7 linked regions of the Homo sapiens genome follow. The protein of the gene in region 1 purifies or fractionates together with the protein of each later gene. This does not show direct contact. Each region holds a gene or a part of one and is shown in the gene's direction. Other genes may lie near its edges. The genes, in order: ASGR2, PARVG, TMEM214, SLC38A9, TIMP3, SERINC1 and SOAT1.

Region 1 (3,500 bases):
GAGCTCCTGGGCTCAAGTGATTCCCCCCGTGTCGACCTCCCAAAGTGCTGGGATTACAGATGTGATCCACAGTGCCTGGCCCTAAATTTTTCTTACGCATTTCTCATCTTCCATTATTTCCATCCAGTGTGTTTTTTCTTTTCTTTCTTTTCTTTTTTTTTTTTTTGGAGGCGGAGTCTCGCTCTGTTGCCCAGGCCGGAGTGCAGTGGCGCGATCTTGGCTCACTGCAAGCTCTGCCTCCCGGGTTCATGCCATTCTCCTGCCTCAGCCTCCCGAGTAGCTGGGACTACAGGCGCCTGCCACCACGTCTGGCTAATTTTTTGTATTTTTAGTAGAGATGGGGTTTCACCATGTTAGCCAGGATGGTGTCGATCTCCTGACCTCATGATCTGCCCGCCTTGGCCTCCCACAGTGCTGGGATTCCAGGCGTGAGCCACGGCGCCTGGCCAGTGTGTTTTTTCATTTCAGACATTGTAGTTTTTATCTCTAGAAGTTCACCTGGGGACTCTTAAATATCCTCCACAATTCTACTTAATTTTTTGAACATAATGGGATATGGCTATAATATCTGTTTTACCATCCTTGCCTGCTAATTCTAGCATCCGTGTCAGTTCTGGATCTCTTTTGATATTTATGAACCTCCTCGTTATGCATTGTGTTTTCCCGTTTCATTGCATGCCTTGTAATCTTTGATTGGCTGCCAGACATTGTCAATTTCACCTTGTTGGGTGCTGGATATTTTTGTATTCCTCTAAATGTTCTTGAGCTTTGCTCCGGGATGCAGTTAAGCAACTTAGAGTCAGTTTGATCGTTTGAACTCTTAATTGTTTTGGTCTCCTCGGACTCTCAGCTCCATCTCCTCAACGTGGGGAGTCTCTTGGGCTCTGCCTGGACTTCCCTTTCCTGGCCTGTAACCTGCAGACTCTCTCCAAACAGTAAGCTGGGGTGATCGGAGGGTTCCTGTTGTTTGCTTCTTATCCCTCAGGGATCTTTACTCCTCCTTGCCTGATGTCCAGAGTCTTGAAAGCTGCCATGTTCTATAGTTGTCTGTTTTTGTTTTGATTGTTTCTGGGGAGAGAAGAACTCTTCCCATCTTGGGCAGACCCTGTCTTTTATGTTCAAACTTTTGCCTAAGAAGCACATTACATATTTTAACTCATCTAATTATCCGAGCAATCCAATCGGGTAGCTACGACTGTGATCTCCATTTTACACACGAGAAAATGGAAGCATGGAGAAATTGAATGCTGGTGCATGATCTCAGAGCTACCTGGAGGCACAGCTGGGCTACCCTGTGGGCAGTCTGGTTTCAGGGTGGATATACAGACACGTTGCTGGGCTGACCCAGCATTGGGAGTTGATAAGTCGGACTGGGAAGCAGGACAGGACCCTCTGAGTGGAGGGTGCTGAAGACAGCAGTCAGGGACTCAGCCATGGAGGGCCAGCTTGGTGGGGAACACCGTGGTCATGGAGCGCTTCTGGATGGAGAGGAATGCAAAGGCCTTGGAGGAAGGGGTGGGGGCAGTGAGAGGGAGGGTGGGGCTGTGCTCAGAGCGGGAGTGGGCAGTGGAGGTGTCAGAGGCCTCCCTGGGTCAAATGGGGTCCTGAGTGTGGCTGCAGTGGGGAAGGTGGAAGTCACTGGTGTGAAAAAGATGAAGAGTTATGGACAGTCACTTACAGGGGCAGTGTCTGACTCAGGACAGTGGCAGGAAGTGACCTGGGGAGGAAGATTCTGGGCCCCTGACTGAGCCTCCCCAGGATGTGGTCCTGCTGGGTCGGGGGGTGATAGGAATGAGAAGACAAGGAAGTCCACAGAGTCAGGGTCCAAGGCCTAGAAGGTGTTCTGTTTGCAGGTGGATGCTGCAAAGAGAGGAGCTCAGGGCTGGGACAACTGGAGCTGCTCTGGGTCTGGAGGCAGCAGAGAGGGAGCCCAGCTCTGTGTGCAGGAAGACGTGGGTGTGTGAGTGTACGTGTGTGGGTGTGTCAGGTGTGTGTGTGTGGGAGGGAGTATGAATGTGTGCATTAGCATGCATATGCACATGTGAGAGTGGGTACAGCAGAGCGTGGTCATGAGTGTGTGCAAATGTGTGTTTTTGAGTGAAGTGAGCAATGTGTGAGTGTGTGAGTGTGTGTGAGTTTGTGAGGGCATGTGAATGTGTGTGTCAGTGCTGTCAGGGTGCAGATGGATCAAGGGGCAGGAGAGGTACCTGTGAGATGACCTCGGGCTGAGGGGAGCAAATTTAGTGTGGAACGAGGTTTCTAGGGAAGCGAGGGCAAAGGGCGCTGGGGAGGAGGCCTTGCGTGGTGGGGGATGAGGACAACAGGTGGGACCTGGAGGGTTGTGCTTGGAGAGTGGGCTATGGTGGAATGACCCAGATTTAAGGATCTCAATGGAATTTTGGCAGGGGAGGGACTGTTCCAGTATGGATTTTAGGAAGAACACAGGGCCCAGCTTCTGGAGTCTCCAATCTGAGGGGACAGGAGCCTTAGAAGAGCTGAGACTAAGGCCCGAGGTGATCTGGAGGCCTCTGCCACTGGCTGGATGGGAGGAAAACCATTCACAGATCCCCCTTCTCAGGATGTGTGCCTAGGCAGGGCCGGGTCTGCCCCCCCGCCCCCTGTGCGTCTCCCAGTCCCCCAGCTCCAGGATCCGGGCTTTGCACACAGCTGATGTGAATATCCTGAGTCGTGTGCATGGGTGTGTGTGCACCAGATTAGCTGCGTGTGTATATTTATACATGGTAATATGGGTGCGAGTGTGTAAGAGTGTGTGTGTAATGCTCAAATGCTGGGGTCAAAGCCTATGATGACCCCCCCCCATGGCCCCAACCAATCCCCCCGCCCAGGTTATGCCTCCTCAGGCTTCGGTGCCCTGTCTTTACCCTCCGGCTCCCCACACCCAGGCTGCCGGCTCCTGATGCCCCTCTCCCACAGGGCCACCTCCTGCCCAGCCCCTGGCACAGCGTCTCTGCTCCATGGTCTGCTTCAGTCTGCTTGCCCTGAGCTTCAACATCCTGCTGCTGGTGGTCATCTGTGTGACTGGGTCCCAAAGTGAGGGTCACGGGGGCCAGCAGGGATGGGCAAGGGGTAGGGAAAGAGACATGGGCAGTGGCGGGCAGCGATCGGGGCGATGGGAGGGGAAGGGATGGAGGCGGGGTGGAGCACAAGCTGGGGCAAATGCGGGGACATTGAGGGGCCAGTCACATGGACAGTGATGGGGACACGGCCCCTCTGCCTCATCCTGCCCCCACTACCACCTGACAAGGTGCACAGCTGCAAGCCGAGCTGCGGAGCCTGAAGGAAGCTTTCAGCAACTTCTCCTCGAGCACCCTGACGGAGGTCCAGGCAATCAGCACCCACGGTGAGGGGCTGGACGGCTGGGTTCTCATTTATCCGCACAGGTTTGCTGGGCTCAGTGCCGAGTCTGCAACAGGGCTGTGTGGGGTGCCGTGGGGGTGCAGGCTGGGCAAGGCGTCCAGGGGCCCTGGGGGATGTATAGG
Region 2 (3,500 bases), on another chromosome or scaffold:
TGTCCCTCGCCCCCACGGGGATGCATCTTGAGTGGGTGTGGCCTCCACCTTCCCTGGAGGCCAGGTGCTCTGGACTTGGTTCCCAAGAGCTGGGATGTTGGGTCAGAGCAACGAGGCCGGGGCAGTCAGTGTCTACGGTCCTGGTGGTTGTGGCAGGCACGGTGCCTGCTGCTTCCTAGGTTCTTCCATTCGGAGGAGCTGCATCAGCCAGCCATTGCCACAAACGTGCTGCTTAACAAACCACCCGAAAACCTAGGGGCTGAAAACCATGCTCATTTCTTCCCACAGACCGGCAGGTCGGCTGAGTTTAGCTGCTAGAGGCTCAGCTAGGCTTTGTCACTCCTCCGAGGACTGGATAGGGATCAGGCTGTCGTGGCTGGGTGGCTCGGCTCTGTGCCACAGCCTGCCATGTTCCTTCTGGGACCAGCAGCTGGCCCGGGCACGCTTTCCTCCTGGCAATGGCAGACACATGAGAGACCAGGCAGAAGGCATGAGGCCCTGGCTCAGAATGGGCAGGCTGCCACTTCCATCGAAGCAGGCCCTGTGGCCTTGACAGTGACATGGGACAGCCCTGCAAAGTGTGTGGGTGCAGAATTGGGCCGATGGTGGGATCTCCCACGGGCAGTGTGGACGAATGTGCTAGCAAATCCTCATGTTGGGTCTTGGAGTTAGGAACTCTTCCCATCCCCACTTCCACAGAGGAAACAGTTGAGAGAGGCACAGAAGTCTGGCCCAGAGCACACAGTGAGTTAGGGTCCTCCCTGTTTCCCTCCTGTGGAGCCAATGTGAGTCTCTGGGAGATGGAGGGGTGGCAGGGCTCAGTGGGGTTGAAGCCAAGGCTGAGACTGGGGTCAGAGCCTGCCTCGGGAAGGCAAGGCACTGAAATGTGAGCGGTGAGGAGAGAAGGCGGAGGAAGGGGGCAGGCAGGACCACCTGCGGGCTGAGGGCCTGGGGCTCGGAACCCAGCTCAGAGCCACTCTGGGGTGCCCCTGGGCTGCAGGGCCTCTGCTCAATCTGTTGCACCATCCAAGCCCCAGTTACAAGACGGGAACAAACGTGCAGACTTCCATGTTGCTGTGTGCAGCCGCTTTGCTGAATCCACTGATTTTAGAACTTACTTCTGAATATGAGTCAGATTAGATGTGGGGGAAAAGCAGCAGCCTCTTAGCTCAGACTCCAAGAATGAATTTTTACAGCATATTGTGGGCAATCTCTGCTGCAGGAATGTGTAATCAAAATGCTGAAGAGGTCGTCAGCTGAGGAGGGCGGGAACACCAGCCCTTGCTGAAGGTGGGCCTCTGCGGAATTGTTATCTTGGCAGAGTAGCCTCTTGAAATTGGATTTCTCATTATCAGACCCTCTTTGCTGATGGTGTTTATGTGAGATAGTTATTCATTGTGGGCACGGAAGTTAAGGATGGAGGGAGAGAGGATCATTCGCTCCCAGAAATAAAATCCCCGGAGCCAGGAATCCTTGGCGTCCTTCCACGTTAAATTACTTTCCCCAGGAGGATTTGCACGTATCCTCCCGGGTTGTAACCTTCTCTCAGCTCCGTGGAAGGTGGTAGTTTTATCTTCATCTCAAGCCACACGCGGAAGAAAAATCTCTGGACAGAGCATCATGAGATAGCTCTGGAGCCAGGGTCAGCTCTTACTGGGGGATGATCTTTTGTTCAGATTGAGTGTCATTGAGGAAGAGTGTGACAAACAGAAGCAGATGTCATAATTTTCAGTGTCGATAGCAATTCCCAAAGCATAAGCTCTATGAGGGCAGGAGGTCTGGTCTGTTTTGAGCACTGGTTGTATGGCTAGCACATAGTAGATGACAAGTATTTTTTTAAATAAGTGAATGAACGAAGTGTTTCCAAAACATTGGTCCCAGGAGGTGTTCTGTGACAAATGGGTTCTATGAATAAATAACTTGGGGAAACATGTCTAGTCTTGAAGGTTCATGCGGCCCACCAACACATTCAAGGCTCTAATAAGTCCTGCAGTGAAGGACTTCCATAGTATTTTATTTAATCCAACAATTTCTAAAAACGTTTGGCCACAGATATCCCCTTTCCTGTCCATCTTAGATCACAGTTTGGGAGATGCTGGCTCGCTGAATGTATCAAAGGCGGAGCTTTGAGGCAGGAGAGCACAGTGCGGAGTCTGGAACCTCAGGTTCCTCAGGGTCTTGTTCTCACTCCGACATTTACTCTCCATGTAACTGCAAATAATATTCGTGATGAGAATGCGAACAATAGCAACAATTGCAACCCTAGTTTCCCAGAATATTCCAGTCTAGGAGGAAGAACTGGGGACACAGTGATGGGAACTTCCGGTGATGCTCTGGTCTGTCCACTCGGAGCTTCCCATCCATCTTGGTCTGGACAGTCTCAGAGTTTCACCCCGCATTGGCCCCTGCAGCATGCTGCAACATTGGTGCCGTGTGATAGCCTTTGTTTCGCTCTTGTCACCCAGGATGGAGTGCAGTGGTGCAATCTTGGCTCACTGCAACCTCCGCCTCCTGGGTTCAAGCAATTCTCCTGCCTCAGCCTCCCAAGTAGCTGGGATTACAGGCACGTGCCACCACACCCAGCTAATTTTTGTATTTTTAGTAGAGACAGGGTTTCACCATGTTGGCCAGGCTGGTCTCGAACTCCTGACCTCAGGTGATCTGCCCACTTTGGCCTCTCAAAGTGCTGGGATTACAGGAATGAGCCACCGTGCCTAGCCTGTTTCTTCTTGTTGGCTGACTACAGAGGAGCGGCCCTGCTGCTGCTGCTGGGCACCCTGCCCATACACTCCTTTCCATCTGGGACCCGCCCTCCATCTTCATGTCCCCACGTGGAGAAGGACTCTGCTCACCCACTTCCAGCTCCTATGCCTTCATCATCCTCACCTTCAAATCTTGCTTTGTGGCTTCAATTCTGTGTCCGTCATCACATTGGACGCACATGGCAGCCTTGGAGAGGAAGGCAGACAGGTGTATCATCCCCGTGACACAGATGAGGCACCTGAGGCCCAGCCAGGATGTGTGACTTGTCCGAGGTCAGACACTTAGTGGCAGGGATGGGGGTGGCAGTACACAGACATCCAAGCTAGATCCCAAGAGTCCTCTTGCTCGGGCCATCCAGCAGGTGGCTGGAGGTGGCCTGGGCCAGGCTGGCGTTTCTGGATGAGTCTTGCCTGGCCTTGCTCATCCACCGCTCGGCCAACCTGGCCTCTTGGCCCCTGGCGGGTTGCCATGGGAACTGCCCTGTCCTGGTGGGGCTGGTGTGGCCAGGCAGATAGGGAGGGAACGGGACCAGCACAGCTGACCCCCGGGCTGGGATGTCCACCCCGTCTAGTGGATCTACGGGTGGCTAAGACATTGAAGGGAGGACCTGTTTGAGGTCACAGTGAACCAGGAGTTCATCCCTCTTCACCCACACCAGGCTGCTGCCCTAAGGCAAAGGGCTGGGACCTACTCTGCTTGTAGACGAGGCCCAAGGGAGAAGCTAGAATGGAAAGGGA
Region 3 (3,115 bases), on another chromosome or scaffold:
CCCTGGACGCGGCTCCTCCTGTTGCTGCTGGTCTTCGCTGTAGGCTTCCTGTGCCATGACCTCCGGTCACACAGCTCCTTCCAGGGTAAGCAGCAATGGGCAAGCGAGGAGGATGGTGTGGGCGGGGCACAGAGCTACACGTAGCACCACCACCCCGCCCCCAGCAGCACACATCTTTGTCCTGACGAGTTCTCAATCCTGCAGAGTAAACACTTTACAGACAGATTTTTTTGTCCACAGATATGACACTACCATTTCAGATTGGACTAGGACTTCGCAGTATAGAAGTGCTTGCATATTCATAGTATCATTTTAGTAGGTGTTACCTCCTTTTAACTCCTGAGGAAATGGTCTCAGAAAGATGTAGCAATTAGCTTTAGGTCATAGCTAGTAAGTAGAAGGGCAGACCCTCAACCTGAGGCTTCCTGAAGCCTGAGCCTAGGCTCCAACCGGCAGCTGCATTCCTGCACACCTGGCCCAGCAGGAGAAGGGCAGCTCTGCATGCCTCCCTCCACAGCAGCCTGGAGCTGGCTTTGTGGCCCTGTGAGAACACAAAGCTCTGCCCAGCGCCTCGCTGTGCCTGCTCTGGGCCCTGTAGTGTCTGTCTCCCCAGTCCCTGCCCCTCTCACCTCCCAGCTCACCAGAGGCCCCCTTTACTTAGCCTCCCTTACTGGCCGGTTGCTTCGATCATCTGGCTTCTTACCTGCTAGCCAACAAGCGTGTGCCAAGCTCTACTCCTACAGTCTGCAAGGCTACAGGTGAGCTCCTCCCAGGGAGGGGAGAGGAGAGGCAGAAGAGAGAAGGCCTGGGTGTCAGGGAGGAGGCGACAGTCAGTGGGAAGCGCTTGTGATTCTCCTTTCCCACGGCCTCCCTTTCCCCAGCTGTTTCTTGGGAGCTAAGTGGGCCTGAGGAGACTCAGAGCCCTCTTCCCCCACTTCCATCTTCCACAGCTGGCTGGGGGAGACACTGCCGCTCTGGGGCTCCCACCTGCTCACCGTGGTGCGGCCCAGCTTGCAGCTGGCCTGGGCTCACACCAATGCCACAGTCAGCTTCCTTTCTGCCCACTGTGCCTCTCACCTTGCGTGGTTTGGTGACAGTCTCACCAGTCTCTCTCAGAGGGTAAGTCAGAGACAGGGAGTCAAATAAGGGGCTGGTTTTCCCAGGAGCAGAATTCTGGGAAAGGAGCAGCACTGTGTGGCCTGAGTCTTTAGGGCCAGGATGCAGTTCCCTGGATACTCTGACCCCATCCATTCTCCATGGTCCAGCTACAGATCCAGCTCCCCGATTCCGTGAATCAGCTACTCCGCTATCTGAGAGAGCTGCCCCTGCTTTTCCACCAGAATGTGCTGCTGCCACTGTGGCACCTCTTGCTTGAGGCCCTGGCCTGGGCCCAGGAGCACTGCCATGAGGCATGCAGGTGAGACCTTTGCCCAGGGCTCCGGCAGGATCCCCAGCAGCCCCATTCCCGGGCCCCAGGGACAAGCCATCTCTATCCAGTCTCCCACACTGTCCTGCCCCTCGCTCCCATTCCTGGCCACCCTGGGATGAGGGTTGTGGGTCTAAGCTTTCATCCCCGAAAGTTGACACAGCTACTCACGTGCATACTCAAAAATGTTCCACTTTCCTTCCAGAGGTGAGGTGACCTGGGACTGCATGAAGACACAGCTCAGTGAGGCTGTCCACTGGACCTGGCTTTGCCTACAGGACATTACAGTGGCTTTCTTGGACTGGGCACTTGCCCTGATATCCCAGCAGTAGGCCCTGCCTTCCTGGCCACTGATTTCTGCATGGGTAGACCATCCAAGACTGCAGCGGGTAGAAGGTGGCAGTTCTTCATGGGAGTCTTTTTAACTTGGTGCCTGAGTTCTCTCCTAGGCAAGTGGCCAGTTGCCTCCACCTCAGTTCTTCCATCTTTGGTGGGGACAGGGCCCAGCAGCATCTCAGCCTCCTACCCACAATTCCACTGAACACTTTTCTGGCCCTACTGCACATGGCCCCCAGCCTCCATCCTTGTGCTGGTAGCCTCTCACAACTCCGCCCTTGCCCTCTGCCTTCCACTTCCTTCCATCTCATTTCTAAACCCCAAACAGCTCATCTCTAAAAAGATAGAACTCCCAGCAGGTGGCTTCTGTGTTCTTCTGACAAATGATTCCTGCTTCTCCAGACTTTAGCAGCCTCCTGTTCCCATTCTTGGTCACAGCTCTAGCCACAGCAGAAGGAAAGGGGCTTCCAGAAGAATATAGCACCGCATTGGGAAACAGCAGCCTCACCTCCACCTGAAGCCTGGGTGTGGCTGTCAGTGGACATGGGGAGCTGGATGGAAATGCCTCTCACTTCAAAATGCCCAGCCTGCCCCAAATGCCTCTAAGCCCCTCCCTGTCCCCTCCCTTGTAGTCCTACTTCTTCCAACTTTCCATTCCCCATCATGCTGGGGGTCTTGGTCACAAGGCTCAGCTTCTCTCCACTGTCCATCCCTCCTATCATCTGTAGAGCAGAGCACAGGCAGTTGTGTGCCTTGGGCCCAGGGAACCCTCCATCAACCTGAGACAGGACTCAGTATATGGTTCTTGGGTATGCCCTACCAGGTGGAATAAAGGACACAGATTTGATTTCTAGCATTCTTGTCTGCATCCTCATATAGAAATTCCCCTAGTTATGGTTCAGAATAACAAAATCCTGGGCCCTTGCCCTCCTGAAGACTGTAGCCGTGGCTGTAATTAAGCTCCTGGTGGGGGAAGCCCACACACATGGTTCTAAAGTTTGACCTGGTGGGTGTTCTAGACACTTCTCTTGCTACCCTAATTATAGTGTCTGACTTGTCACTGTGATTCACGTCCCAGATTTGCCTTGATAGTTTTACGCTTAGAAAAGCAGGGGGCCGTCTCCTAGGGGAATTCTTGGCCAGTGACCAGGAGGTGTCCTTTCCTTGCCAGGACCTTCATTTTATAGAGCAGTGAGTGAAAGATTTAGAACTCCAAGGGACACATGAGTCCAAGGTTTATCACCGAAGCCCCTTTTTATTTTTGACTTGAGACTATAAGGAGTTAGATAACTCTGCTGGTTTCTTAGTTCTCAATTTTGTTTCCTTAAATGTTTCAAGTCAGCAGTACTAGAG
Region 4 (3,488 bases), on another chromosome or scaffold:
CTGGGACTACAGGCGCCCACCACCATGCCCGGCTAATTTTTTGTATTTTTTAGTAGTGGTGGGGTTTCACTGTGTTAGCCAGGATGGTCTCAATCTCCTGACCTTGTAATCCGCCCGCCTCAGCCTTCCAAAGTGCTGGGATTACCGGCGTGAGCCACTGCACCCGGCCTACATTTATGCAATTTTACATAAATGATCAATTGTTTAGAATTGAAGGTCAGATATATAATTAATTTTTATTTGATATATAACAAGTTTAAATTACTGCTATAATTGTTAACCTCTTATTAGGGATGAAGGAGTTGTGAGTTCTTTTGAAAATCTTTTCAAAGCTGGTTACCCTCATCCAAGAGAAATTTCTTTTTTTTTTTCAAGAGAAATTTCTATATGTCATTTCAGAGTTTCCCAGCAGCCTTCTTGTGGACCTTTGGTTAACTCCTACCCTTACATTAAGTCTTTTTATAGGTTCATCTTAGTGAAAAGAACCTAGTCCACTTTTATTAGGCATATGTTCTTTTAAAGAAAGATAACTTAAATAAAATTTGAAAAAAATTGCATTTACAGTAAGCAACTAAACAAGTGGTCTTAATCAGTTCTTGTTTAAAATGAACTGATGTAGTCTGCTTCTTCGATAAATAATTTTTGCCATAAATATGTTGGTTTCAAAACAAAGCAAAAGTCAGGAGTTACCAGGTCTCAAGCACTGATAAGTATAGCAGCAGCTATGGTTCTAGTGTTATTATCCAGAAGATTGGAGCTCAATAAATGTAAGCCTCTGATTGTGTTTCTACTCTGCTGTATTTATATTCATCAAAGAAAATAAATACAGTGAAGTCATAGATGAAAAAATGCTAAGCAAATACATTATTCCTGTTTTCTACCATTATTTTGCAGAATGTGGCTATCTTTACAATAATGTTTTTTCTTCTTGGAAAAAGTCAGAGATTTCCCTTTTGTTTTCACATTACAGTTCTTCCCCTACCACCAAGAACACATTGTCATTTTCATTTATCCGACAGTTATAAGCACTTTATAGAGTGTGCATACTTTGGAGCATAATTTTTGGTCTCAGGACCCTTTATGCTCTTAAAAATGTATTGAGGACTCCAGGAGCTTTAGTTTATGCAGGTATAGCTATCAGTATTTAAATATTAAAAAATAGAATTTAGGTTTTTTGTTTTTCGTTTTTTTGAGACGGAGTTTCACTCTTGTCGCCCAGGCTGGAGTGCAGTGGCATGATCTTGGCTCACTGCAACCCCTGCCTCCTGGGTTCAAGCAATTCTCCTACCTCAGCCTCCCGAGTAGCTGGGATTACAGGCACCCACCACCATGTCTGCCTAATTTTTTGTGTTTTTAGTAAAGATGGTGTTTCGCCATGTTGGGCAGGCTGGTCTTGAACTCCTGACCTCAGGTGATCTGCCTGCCTCAGCCTCCCAAAGTGCTGGTATTACAGGCATGAGCCACCGTGCCCAGCAAAGTATTTTTAATTTGTTTAAAATCAATAATAAAACCATTACTTGTTAACATAAGTAACATTTTTGTAAAAAAACACTTTCAGGGGATGGATACCCCAGTCTCCATGATGTGATTATTATGTATTACATGCCTGTATGAAAACATCTTATGTGCCCCATAAATATATACACCTACTATGTACCCACCAAAATTTAAAAAAATAAAAATAACTGCTTTCAAAAAATTTTTAATTTAGCCGTTCGTGGTGGCTCACACCTGTAATCCCAGCACTTTGGGAGGCCAAGGCGGGTGGATCATGAGGTCAGGAGATCGAGACCATCCTGGCCACCATGGTGAAACCCCATCTCTACTAAAAATACAGAAATTAGCCTGGCGTAGTGGCAGGCGCTTGTAATCCCAGGTACTCGGGAGGCTGAGGTAGGAGAATTGCTTGAACCCAGGAGGCGGAGGTTGCAGTGAGCCAAGATGGCACCACTGCACTCCAGCCTGGGTGACAGAGCGAGACTCCATCTCAAAAAAAAACAAAAACAAACAAACAAAAAAACCCTTTAATTTACATTTGCAAAACTCTGATGTTTGTTTTACTAGCAGACAATTGATTCTCCTCTCTACTTCTGCATTCCATGTTATAATATCCTGTTTTCGTTTAGATTTGTGAAGAAAATCCAGCCTCACATAGATAGTTGGAAAAAGAAGGAGTACTTTTAATAGCTTTTTCATATAATTGTGGATATTCTTCTTTGATACTGTGCCAAAACCTGACGAGTGGTAGCTTCTTATGAGTTGCATCGTGGAATCTGAAACTTGTTTACATTAAAACCAATTGGTCTATCGTGCACTTTGGATCTTTTACGCATGCATGATTTTGTAACATCTGTTTGATCATTTGGAAAATATTGGTTCACTGAGTTCTGTGGATCTTCCAAATGTTGACACACTTCATTTTACAATATCAAAACCCACTTTCATTAATACTATCACTAATTTCATCACAAGAGCCTTTAAACATTGGGAAACTGTCAAGCTCAGGGTAGCAAATACAAGTTTTCCAAAATTCTAGTTTTTATTTGAAAACTTTAATTTTATCTTTGGCAACAAATACTGCCAGTTGTTTTCCTTGAATTATATAAGTGACAAGCTTATATAATTCATTTTTCTGGAAAATCTCTGTCAAACACCTGAGTTTGAATGACCATAGTTTGACTGCAATTCAAGTAAAAGTAGCATTTGGTAGGCAAAACAGCTAGGTCCCCTTCAGCTCAGCCACACAGGTACTTTTCCTCAAGACTTCCAGCGTACTGTACTGCAGTACGCGCAGATGTGCTTTATTATGACTTTCCTATTTGATCACATAGAATATTTAAAGGATATATATTCAAACATGAGATTTAGCAAAATTAATGTTCTACTCCTTTATCAAGGACTTTTTTTATACTTTGGAGAGTGTTTGGCATTAAAGAATAGAGTATAGAAAGCATGGGTGTTAGCCGGTCATGGTGACACACACCTGTAGTCCCAGCTATTCAGGAGGTTGGTTTGAGCCCAGAAGTTCAAGCCTTCAGTAAGCCATTATTGCCCCACTGCACTGCAGCCTGGATGACAGAGCAAGACCCTGTCTCTTAAAAAAATAATAATAATTAATTAAAATTTTAGAAAAGGAATACAGATGGATGCAACTGCCTCCCTCTGTGTATACAAAGTTGTTTCCGTTTATAATGCAGAAATAACAAAAGCCCAGCCAATACCTCAAAGCTCTGAAGCAATTTTAAGGTTAGAGTTTCTGGGTAAACAGTAAGATCTGTAAGCCCTAATATCTTTCTAATTCATCAGGGTATATGACTAACCACTTATTTATATAAATAATTTTCTTTGTTTCTAATTCTCTGTAATCTTTATCTGGGATTAATTAACCTCTGATGACTTGGGCCCAAAGGGTTGCTTTGATGTGTACATTTGGCTTTTGAGAATCATTTTCAGGGGAAATGGAGTTCTTTCTTCAGCATCAAATTTTC
Region 5 (2,837 bases), on another chromosome or scaffold:
GGGCCTGGGCACAGGAGGGAGAGCTGCAGAGTGTCCTGCCTGCCTTGGCTGGAGGGACACCTCTCCTGGGTGTGGAGACAGCTTGGTTCCCTTTCCCTAGCTCCCTGGTGGGTGAATGCCACCTCCTGAGATCCTCACCTCTTGGAATTAAAATTGTTGGTCACTGGGGAAAGCCTGAGTTTGCAACCAGTTGTAGGGTTTCTGTTGTGTTTTTTTTTTTTTTTTTGAAATAAAACTATAATATAAATTCTCCTATTAAATAAAATTATTTTAAGTTTTAGTGTCAAAAGTGAGATGCTGAGAGTAGGTGATAATGTATATTTTACAGAGTGGGGGTTGGCAGGATGGTGACATTGAACATGATTGCTCTCTGTCTCTTTTTTCAGCTTATGGGTATTTATCTTCTATTAGTATTTGTATCTTCAGTTCATTCCACTTTAGGAAACAGAGCTGCCAATTGAAACAGAAGAAGAAAAAAAAAAAAAGCAGCAGACAACACACTGTAGAGTCTTGCACACACACAAGTGCCCAGGCAAGGTGCTTGGCAGAACCGCAGAGTGGGAAGAGAGTACCGGCATCGGGTTTCCTTGGGATCAATTTCATTACCGTGTACCTTTCCCATTGTGGTCATGCCATTTGGCAGGGGGAGAATGGGAGGCTTGGCCTTCTTTGTGAGGCAGTGTGAGCAGAAGCTGATGCCAGCATGTCACTGGTTTTGAAGGGATGAGCCCAGACTTGATGTTTTGGGATTGTCCTTATTTTAACCTCAAGGTCTCGCATGGTGGGGCCCCTGACCAACCTACACAAGTTCCCTCCCACAAGTGGACATCAGTGTCTTCTCTGTGAGGCATCTGGCCATTCGCACTCCCTGGTGTGGTCAGCCTCTCTCACACAAGGAGGAACTTGGGTGAAGGCTGAGTGTGAGGCACCTGAAGTTTCCCTGCGGAGTCGATAAATTAGCAGAACCACATCCCCATCTGTTAGGCCTTGGTGAGGAGGCCCTGGGCAAAGAAGGGTCTTTCGCAAAGCGATGTCAGAGGGCGGTTTTGAGCTTTCTATAAGCTATAGCTTTGTTTATTTCACCCGTTCACTTACTGTATAATTTAAAATCATTTATGTAGCTGAGACACTTCTGTATTTCAATCATATCATGAACATTTTATTTTGCTAAATCTTGTGTCATGTGTAGGCTGTAATATGTGTACATTGTGTTTAAGAGAAAAATGAAACCCACATGCCGCCATTTTCCTGAATCAAATTCTGCAGTGGAATGGAGAGGAAAATACTTCTAGGCAAGCAGCTAGACTGGTGAATTGGGGGAAATAGAAGGAACTAGTAACTGAGACTCCTCCAGCCTCCTCCCTATTGGAATCCCAATGGCTCCTGGAGTAGGAAAAAAGTTTAAACTACATTCATGTTCTTGTTCTGTGTCACTCGGCCCTGGGTAGTCTACCATTTACTTCACCCCAAGTCCTGCTGCCCATCCAGTTGGGAAGCCATGATTTTCCTAAGAATCCAGGGCCATGGGAGATACAATTCCAAGTTCTCGCTTCCTCCTTTGGGCATCTCTTCTGCCTCCCAATCAAGGAAGCTCCATGCTCAGGCTCTCAGCTCTCGGGCCAGTGCTCTGCTCTGTCCAGGGTAGGTAATACTGGGAGACTCCTGTCTTTTACCCTCCCCTCGTTCCAGACCTGCCTCATGGTGGCAACATGGTTCTTGAACAATTAAAGAAACAAATGACTTTTTGGAATAGCCCTGTCTAGGGCAAACTGTGGCCCCCAGGAGACACTACCCTTCCATGCCCCAGACCTCTGTCTTGCATGTGACAATTGACAATCTGGACTACCCCAAGATGGCACCCAAGTGTTTGGCTTCTGGCTACCTAAGGTTAACATGTCACTAGAGTATTTTTATGAGAGACAAACATTATAAAAATCTGATGGCAAAAGCAAAACAAAATGGAAAGTAGGGGAGGTGGATGTGACAACAACTTCCAAATTGGCTCTTTGGAGGCGAGAGGAAGGGGAGAACTTGGAGAATAGTTTTTGCTTTGGGGGTAGAGGCTTCTTAGATTCTCCCAGCATCCGCCTTTCCCTTTAGCCAGTCTGCTGTCCTGAAACCCAGAAGTGATGGAGAGAAACCAACAAGAGATCTCGAACCCTGTCTAGAAGGAATGTATTTGTTGCTAAATTTCGTAGCACTGTTTACAGTTTTCCTCCATGTTATTTATGAATTTTATATTCCGTGAATGTATATTGTCTTGTAATGTTGCATAATGTTCACTTTTTATAGTGTGTCCTTTATTCTAAACAGTAAAGTGGTTTTATTTCTATCACACATCTGCTGTCTCTTGCCTTGTTGTGTTCTGACGCCACGGGGAGTTATGTATACACCAGCAGGCCTTGAAAGTCTATCCCCAGCTCCAGGCCTGGACACATCCCTCCCTCCATGCACCGCTATGGCCTGGCCCCACCCTGCTCCAGTCCTTTTCCCTTGCAGAAGGAATCTTAGGAGAGGTGCCCTGCCTTGACTTTGCTCCCTGATTCTATTGCTAGAGTCCTCCCTAGTTCTGCTGAATCTGGATGTATTAATATATCTGTACCTAATCACCTATTGGTGGTACAAGTACCCCCAGACTGGAGTCCTTACTCAGCCCTCCTTGTTTTCTTCCTAAGAATCCCAACCTGGTGGAGGTGGGGAGGGGCGGCCTGCAAACAGCAGTCCTTGATGTCAACTGCCTGCTTGAAATTCCAAGTATGGCTTGGCCTAGTTGGGAACACCAGGAACTCATGAGGTCTCACGACAGCTGGTGACCTTTTCCCAGAGCTTATAACAAC
Region 6 (3,500 bases), on another chromosome or scaffold:
CCTTAATTTGAAAGTACTTTATTTCCAAAAAATGCTAACAGTCATCTGAGCCTTCATCAAGTTGTAATCTTTTTGCTGGTAGGAGGTCTTGCCTCAATGTTGACGGCTGCTGACCGAACAGGGTGTTGGTTGCTGCAGGTTGGCATGGCTGTTTTAGTATCTTTAAACTAAGACCACAATGAAGTTTGCCCATTGATTGACTCCTCCTTTCACAAAATATTTCTCTGTAGCATATGATGCTGTTTGATAGCATTTGACCCAGAGTAGAATTTCCTTCCAAATTGGAGTCAATCCTCTTAAACCTGCTCCTGGTTCATTAAGTAAGTTTATGTAATATTCTAACTCCTTTGCTGTCATTTCAATAATATTCATAGCATCTTCATCAGGAGTAAATTCCATCTCAAAAAACTACTTTGTTCATCCATAAGAAGCAACACCTCATCATTCAGGCTTGATAATGAAATTGCAGCAATTCAGTCACATCTTCAGGTTCCACTTTTTAGTTCTCTTGCTCTTTCCACCGTATCTGTAGCTACTTCCTCCACTAAAGTCTTGAAATCCTCAGTCATCTATGAGGGTTAGAATCAACTTCTTTCAAACTCCTGTTAATGTTGATATTTTGACATTTTTTCCCATGAATCATGAATGTTCTTAATAGCATCTAGAATGGTGAATCTTTTCCAGAAGGTTTTCAGTTTACTTTGTCCACCCAGATCTATCAGAGGAATTACTCTATGGCAGCTATAGCCTTACAAAATATATTTCTTAAATAATAAGATTTAAACGTTGAAATTACTCCTTTTTCCATGGGCTGCAGAATAAATACTGTGTTAGCAGACATGAAAATATTAATCTCCCTGTACATCTCTATCAGAGCTTTTGGGTGACCCAGGTGCATCGTCATTGAGTAGTAATATTTTGAAAGGATCTTTTAGCAGTAAGTCCCAACAATGGGCTTAAAATATTCCGTAACCCATACTTTCAACAGATGTGCTGTCATCTAGGCTTTTTTCTATTCATAGAGAGGCTGAATAGACTTAATATAATTCTTAAGGGCCCTAGGATTTTTGGAATGGTAAAGAACATTGGCTTTCTCTTAAAATCATTGTCTGCATTAGTCCCTAACAAGAGAATCAGCCTGTCCTTTTAAGCTTTGAAGCCAGGCATTGACTGACTTCTCTATAGCTATGAAAGTCCTAGATTATATCTTCTTACAATAGAAGTCTATGTTGTCTTTATTGAAAATCTGTTGTTTGGTTTGGCTGCTTTCTTTTTTCTTATTTTTATTTTTTTGAGATGGAGTTTCACTCTTGTTGCACAGGCTGGAGTGCAATGGCACAATCCCCGTTCACTGCAACTTCTGTCTCCTTGGTAAGCCATTCTCCTGCCTCAGCCTCCTGAATAGCTGGGATTACAGGCCTGCGCCACCACACCCAGCTAATTTTGTATTTTTAGTAGAGATTGGGTTTCACCATGTTAGCCAGGCTGTTCTCGAACTCCTGACCTCAGGTGATCCACCCGCCTCAGCCTCCCAAAGTGCTGAACTTACAGGCGTGAGCAACCATGCCTGACCAGTGTAGCTACTTTCATTAATTTTGTTGGCTAGATTTTTAGGATGACTTGCTGTAGCTTCTGCATCAGCACTTACTGGTTCACCTTATACTTTTATGTTACGGAGACAGTTTCTTTCATTAAACCTCAACAACCAACCCCATCTAGTTTCAAACTTTTCTTCTACAGCTTCCTTCTCTCTCTCAATCTTAATAGACTTGAAGTGAGAGAGAGGGCCTTGCTCTGGATTAGGCTTTGGCTTAAGGGAATGCTCTGCTGGTTTGATCTTCTATCCAGGTCACTAAAACTTTCTCCTCCATATCAGCAATAAGACTGCTTTGCTTTCTTATCTATCATTTGTGTGTTTGTGTTCACTGGAGTGGCACTTTTAATATCCTTCAAGAACTTTTTCTTTTCTTTGCATTCGCAACTCAGCTAACTGGAACAGAAGGCCTAGCTTTTGACCTGTCTCAGCTTTTGGCATGCTTTCTTAACTAAGCTTAATCATTTCTAGCTTTTGATTTAAGTGAGAAAGGGGACTCTTTTACTTGAACAGTTAGAGGCCATTGCAGGGTTATTAACTGGCCTAATTTCCATATGGTTGTGTCTTGAAATAGGCCCAAGGAGAGGGATAGAGACAAGGAAATGGCTGGTTGGTGGAGCAGTCAGAACACACACAATGTTTGTCGATTATTTCACCATCTTATATGGGTGTGATTTGTGGTGCCCGAAAGAAATTACAATAGTAACATAATAGGTCACTGATGAGAGATCACCATAACAGATGTAATTAATAATAATGACAAATTGTGAAATATTACAAGAATTACCAAAATGTGAAACAAAGTGAGTACATACTGTTAGAAAAAATGGAACCAATAGACTTGTTTAATGCAGGGTTGCCACAAACCTTCAATTTGTAAAAAGAACAGTATCTGTAAAATGCTAAAAAAAAAAAAAAAAAAAAATAGGCAAAGCACAGTAAAACAAGGTATGTCTATGTAAGAAACTGGGTGAAATTATAAGAAAGGTATCTGATTTGCATAGAGCATATAATTGTCGTATATAGAAAGAAAAACTCTTCAAATTCCTGTTGATTCAATTGTGAACAGTATAATTTTTTCACATTATTAAATTACTCTTTTAGCCTGTGACTACCTTACAATTGAATTTGATAATTGGGCTTTGTAATGCATCTTATTATAGGCTAGTTATATTGCATACCATGAGAATAGAAACATATGTTGAAAGGAGACAAATTAGAATAGACAAAAATTATTACCTATTAAAAAGAAGAAAATGATCTCTTTTCCTAAAAAATTTATCTGATGTTATATGAATCTCATTGAGTTTACAAACTGTAGGTATTTTATCATAGGTACTTTATAACTTGGAGACCAATTTATTTTTTGTTTTTTTGTTTTGATGTATTACACAAAGATTTCCTGTTTTTTTCCAGGTAGGTGGTTAGAAAAAAATTATTAGTAGTTTGCTTTAGAGAAGGAAATAGCCTTACCTAATTGGCTTTAAGGTAAGAATCATTTTCATTAGTAAGATGGAGTTTGACAGATCTGGCTTTGCAGGAGAAAAATATGTATTTTAGACACTTTAGTGAATATTTTAGCAATCCTACTTTTTTTTTTTTTTTTTGAGACAGAGTCTCGCTCTGTCGTTAGGCTGGAATGCAGTGGCATGATCTCGGCTCACTGCAACCGCCTCCCGGGTTCGAGTCTTTCTGCCTCAGCCTCCCGAGTAGCTGGGACTACAGGCACATGCCACCACGCCCAGCTGATTTTTGTATTTTTAGTAGAGAAGCGGTTTCACCATGTTGGCCAGGATGATCTCTATCTCTTGACCTTGTGATCCGCCCGCCTCGGCCTCCCAAAGTGCTGGGATTACAGGCATGAGCCACCGCACCTTGCCTACTTTCTTCTTTATAAAAGAATAAG
Region 7 (3,500 bases), on another chromosome or scaffold:
GTTTTCAGTTCTTACTTCTCTCATCATTTCTGATGAAGAGATAGATGCTCTTGTGGCTTCCTCTGTCACTTTTACACAGAATTGGACCATTGTAAGTTGGGCATCGTCTTGTGATTTATTAGCCCTGACTTTTCCCTTAAGTTCCTCTTAATTAGATCTTATGATATCATAACATTTCTACTTGATATATTCATCTGCTGTTCCACAATTGTTTCATTTGTTTGATTTCAGAAATAATTAGAAGAAAGCCGATCTAGATTTGTCAGATTTTTACTTTGCCAAGCTGTGATAGTTGAAAAACAACCAAACCCACCATGTACTATATTTCATCCTTTTATACAGAAAAGGATATTTTAGTACAAAAATTAAGAAAAACTGTAGTCTCAGAATTTAAATATATATAGCTTTAAAATAATGTAATGAGTATTTCACAGTTGTTTTCTTCTTGCTTTAGACTCTTGAAAACTTTATCACATAGTGAAACACTGCTTTACTTTTTATTTAAAATTGTTTTTTTGGCCGGGTGCGGTGGCTCATGCCTGTAATCCCAGCACTTTGGGAGGCTGAGGCGGGCGGATAACTTGAGGTCAGAAGTTCGAGACCAGCGTGACCAACATGGTGAAACCCTGTCTCTACTAAAATACAAAAATTAGCCACGTGTGGTGGCAGTCACCTGTAATCTCAGCCACTCGGGAGGCTGAGGCAGGAGAATTGCCTGAACCCAGGAGGCGGAGGTTGCAGTGAGCCGAGATTGCACCATTGCACTCCCACCTGGGCAAAGCGATACTCCTTCTCAATAAATAAATAAATAAATAATTTTGAGATGTGGTCTTGCTATGTTTCCCATGCCAGACTCAAACTCCTGGGTTCAAGTCATCCTCCCGCCTGAGCCTCCCAAGTAGCTGGGACTACAGCTGTGTGCCACCATGCCCAACTAGGGAAACACATGGCTTTAGAGTAAACCTTGTACTATCTTGATATTGATCTTTGATCATGTTTTTTAGTGCTTAAAGTGTCTCACCACTGCCTTCCTGAAAAACTTCTAATTTCTTAGGCCTTTATAGTTTGACTCCTGTCCTCCTTTCTAGTCTTTTCCCTCATCACATTTCTCCATTACCAACTATTTTCCCCCAGTAGTTAGTGGTCTTTGTAGTTTGGATCCAACTAATGCCAGTTCCAATCGGGCTCTGTCGTTAGCTGTGTGGTCTTGGGCAAGTTACTGTAATGAGAAGAAAAGCAGACTCTAGTACCTGGGGCTGTGGTGTGCATTCCTATAAATTCAGCTTGTTCAACTGCAGGTGTATTCCTGGTACATGGGTGGAGGACACTGATAGTAACTACTTTAAATCATTGTTTTCTCATGTGAAAACTGAGGGTAATTTTTTTCAGAATTGTTATGAAGATTAAATGAGAAAACTTAAAGCATCTGGCAGGGTCCTTGCACTTAGTAGATACTTAACAAAAACTTGTTTTTGTCGTAGTTCAATTCCTTCATGGTTCCCTGAACGGGGCTTATAAGGTCCTTGTTTTAATCCTTTCTTGCACATGGAATGCACAGTTCTCATCCTTCAAGACTGTGTCTAAAATACCTTCTTTTCTGTGAAACCTTTACATCTTCTGCTAATCTCTGCTGTCTCTGAACTTAAGGTATTGTTTTTACCATTGACTTTGTTATTAAATCATACTCCACCCTGTGGCATCTTTGTAGTTACCTGTTACTATTTAATCCTTTTTTTTTTTTTTTTACATACTTAATGCTTTGTTCAACTAAATTGTTCTTTAAGAGTGGGGTCTATGTTTAAAAAGGGGCTTCAAAACCATTCCAATTATTTTATAGGACCTGATTTCTTCAGATTTGTTATCTTGAGTATCTTGTACCCAGAAAATGCTTTGAAATGATTAATGCAAAAGGAAGAGAATGTATCATCACATTTCACCTCTCCTAAATATAGTGGTATTGTGAAATTCACGTAAGCCAGATGCTTAGTTCAAAGCTGATATATTGGTTTGCTTCTGTGTCCCCACACAAATCTCATCTCTAACTGTAATCACCACGTGTCTAGGGAGGGAACTGGTGGGAGGTGATTGGATCATGGGGGCAGTTTCCCCCATGCTGTTCTCGTGATAGTGAGGGAGTTCTCATGAGAGCTGATGGTTTTAAATGTGGCACTTCCTTGCTCTGTCTCTCCTGCCGCCACGTAAGACATGCCTTGCCTCCCCTTGGTCTTCTGCCATGATTGTAAGTTTCCTGAGGCCTTTCCAGCCATGCGGAACTGTGAGACAGTTAAACCTCTTTCCTTTATAAATTACCCAGTCTCAGGTAGTGTATAGCAGTGTGAAAACGGACTAATACGAAAGCTTTTTACACCTTCTTTCCTAGACAATACAATGGTGGGTGAAGAGAAGATGTCTCTAAGAAACCGGCTGTCAAAGTCCAGGGAAAATCCTGAGGAAGATGAAGACCAGAGAAACCCTGCAAAGGAGTCCCTAGAGACACCTAGTAATGGTGAGGCTTAATTTTTTTTTTTTAGGTGAATTAGTGAAATAGAGAACAAATACAGTGTTATAGAATAAGTATTGCCATCTCTTTAATTCTTTATTGTAAATGGGTATTGATAGAGTTTTATATGTCTAGTAACAAAGCAATTAGACAATAAGTCCTTTCTCGTTAATTAATTTGGTGGTCATCTATTGGTATCTGCTGTGTTTTAGAGACCATTCATTCAGTCACGTAACCTACCAATAATTGCTGAGGTCCCCCGCTGGATGCTGGGGCTATAGCAGTGATCAGTACGGATTTGTTTGCCATTATGGAGCTCCAAGTTAAGTGAATGACAAAACCTCCAAAATCATACACATAACTAGATTTATCACAGTGTAATATTCTTGTAATTAACTACTTTCATAATAGATGTAATGAGTAAAATGTGAGTAATTAGCAGGGTGCCTAACCCAGTTCAATACTGAGCTATAAATCTTGGGAGAGGAGTAGTTAGGGAGTTTTATTAGTTCTTGTATCCACGTTTGCTTAATGCCTGACTACAAAGAGGAATACGATAGTCCTTTGTTGTTAAGGTCAAGGTTTATGATTATGAATGATAGACTTGTAAACACAACTCTAATTGATGTCATCTATTGCATCAGGGTATTAATTTTTGCAGTGACATTTGTAAAGGTTTGATTTCAACAAGGATTTGAAAATTGAGGATTGTTTAGTTAACAAATAGGTGCGGAACCTTCTGAGACAGGTTGTCTTTGGCATTTCATCTCTTTTCATAAAGAAACAGTTTTGTTTTTCCTACCTAAATTTAATTAAACTTAAATATCAACAGCTGGATCCCACCAGGAATGTAAACATTGCTGCTTGAGTTGGCATAATGAGGTTTATTGATAGGCTCTTAGTTAGCTATATATGACATATTTATATGGCATATGGGCTAGTTTTAGTGTGATATAAAATGTGAAATTTATGCAAAGGAGGATGAGCCAATACTGGGGAG

Evidence for each region.
Region 2: the proteins of ASGR2 (region 1) and PARVG purify together in Homo sapiens (affinity purification with mass spectrometry; 3 studies listed by BioGRID and IntAct, with this or other methods). This does not show direct contact.
Region 3: the proteins of ASGR2 (region 1) and TMEM214 purify together in Homo sapiens (affinity purification with mass spectrometry; 4 studies listed by BioGRID and IntAct, with this or other methods). This does not show direct contact.
Region 4: the proteins of ASGR2 (region 1) and SLC38A9 purify together in Homo sapiens (affinity purification with mass spectrometry; 3 studies listed by BioGRID and IntAct, with this or other methods). This does not show direct contact.
Region 5: the proteins of ASGR2 (region 1) and TIMP3 purify together in Homo sapiens (affinity purification with mass spectrometry; 3 studies listed by BioGRID and IntAct, with this or other methods). This does not show direct contact.
Region 6: the proteins of ASGR2 (region 1) and SERINC1 purify together in Homo sapiens (affinity purification with mass spectrometry; 4 studies listed by BioGRID and IntAct, with this or other methods). This does not show direct contact.
Region 7: the proteins of ASGR2 (region 1) and SOAT1 purify together in Homo sapiens (affinity purification with mass spectrometry; 4 studies listed by BioGRID and IntAct, with this or other methods). This does not show direct contact.

What each region holds. Positions count from the first base shown.
Region 1 is NC_000017.11:7,108,323-7,111,822, reverse strand, and holds part of ASGR2 (asialoglycoprotein receptor 2), read left to right. Parts: intron 1-2,934; coding exon 2,935-3,051; coding exon of another isoform or gene 3,052-3,087; intron 3,088-3,265; coding exon 3,266-3,361; intron 3,362-3,500. UniProt on the Homo sapiens protein: Mediates the endocytosis of plasma glycoproteins to which the terminal sialic acid residue on their complex carbohydrate moieties has been removed. The receptor recognizes terminal galactose and N-acetylgalactosamine units.
Region 2 is NC_000022.11:44,201,425-44,204,924, forward strand, and holds part of PARVG (gamma-parvin), read left to right. Parts: intron 1-3,500. UniProt on the Homo sapiens protein: Plays a role with ILK in promoting the cell adhesion and spreading of leukocytes.
Region 3 is NC_000002.12:27,039,080-27,042,194, forward strand, and holds the end of TMEM214 (transmembrane protein 214), read left to right. Parts: coding exon 1-85; intron 86-661; coding exon 662-758; intron 759-950; coding exon 951-1,119; intron 1,120-1,265; coding exon 1,266-1,417; intron 1,418-1,631; coding exon 1,632-1,758; 3' UTR 1,759-2,615; downstream 2,616-3,115. UniProt on the Homo sapiens protein: Critical mediator, in cooperation with CASP4, of endoplasmic reticulum-stress induced apoptosis. Required or the activation of CASP4 following endoplasmic reticulum stress.
Region 4 is NC_000005.10:55,628,837-55,632,324, reverse strand, and holds part of SLC38A9 (neutral amino acid transporter 9), read left to right. Parts: intron 1-3,488.
Region 5 is NC_000022.11:32,860,705-32,863,541, forward strand, and holds the end of TIMP3 (metalloproteinase inhibitor 3 precursor), read left to right. Parts: 3' UTR 1-2,337; downstream 2,338-2,837.
Region 6 is NC_000006.12:122,447,808-122,451,307, reverse strand, and holds part of SERINC1 (serine incorporator 1), read left to right. Parts: intron 1-3,500.
Region 7 is NC_000001.11:179,300,297-179,303,796, forward strand, and holds part of SOAT1 (sterol O-acyltransferase 1), read left to right. Parts: intron 1-2,380; 5' UTR 2,381-2,388; coding exon 2,389-2,506; intron 2,507-3,500.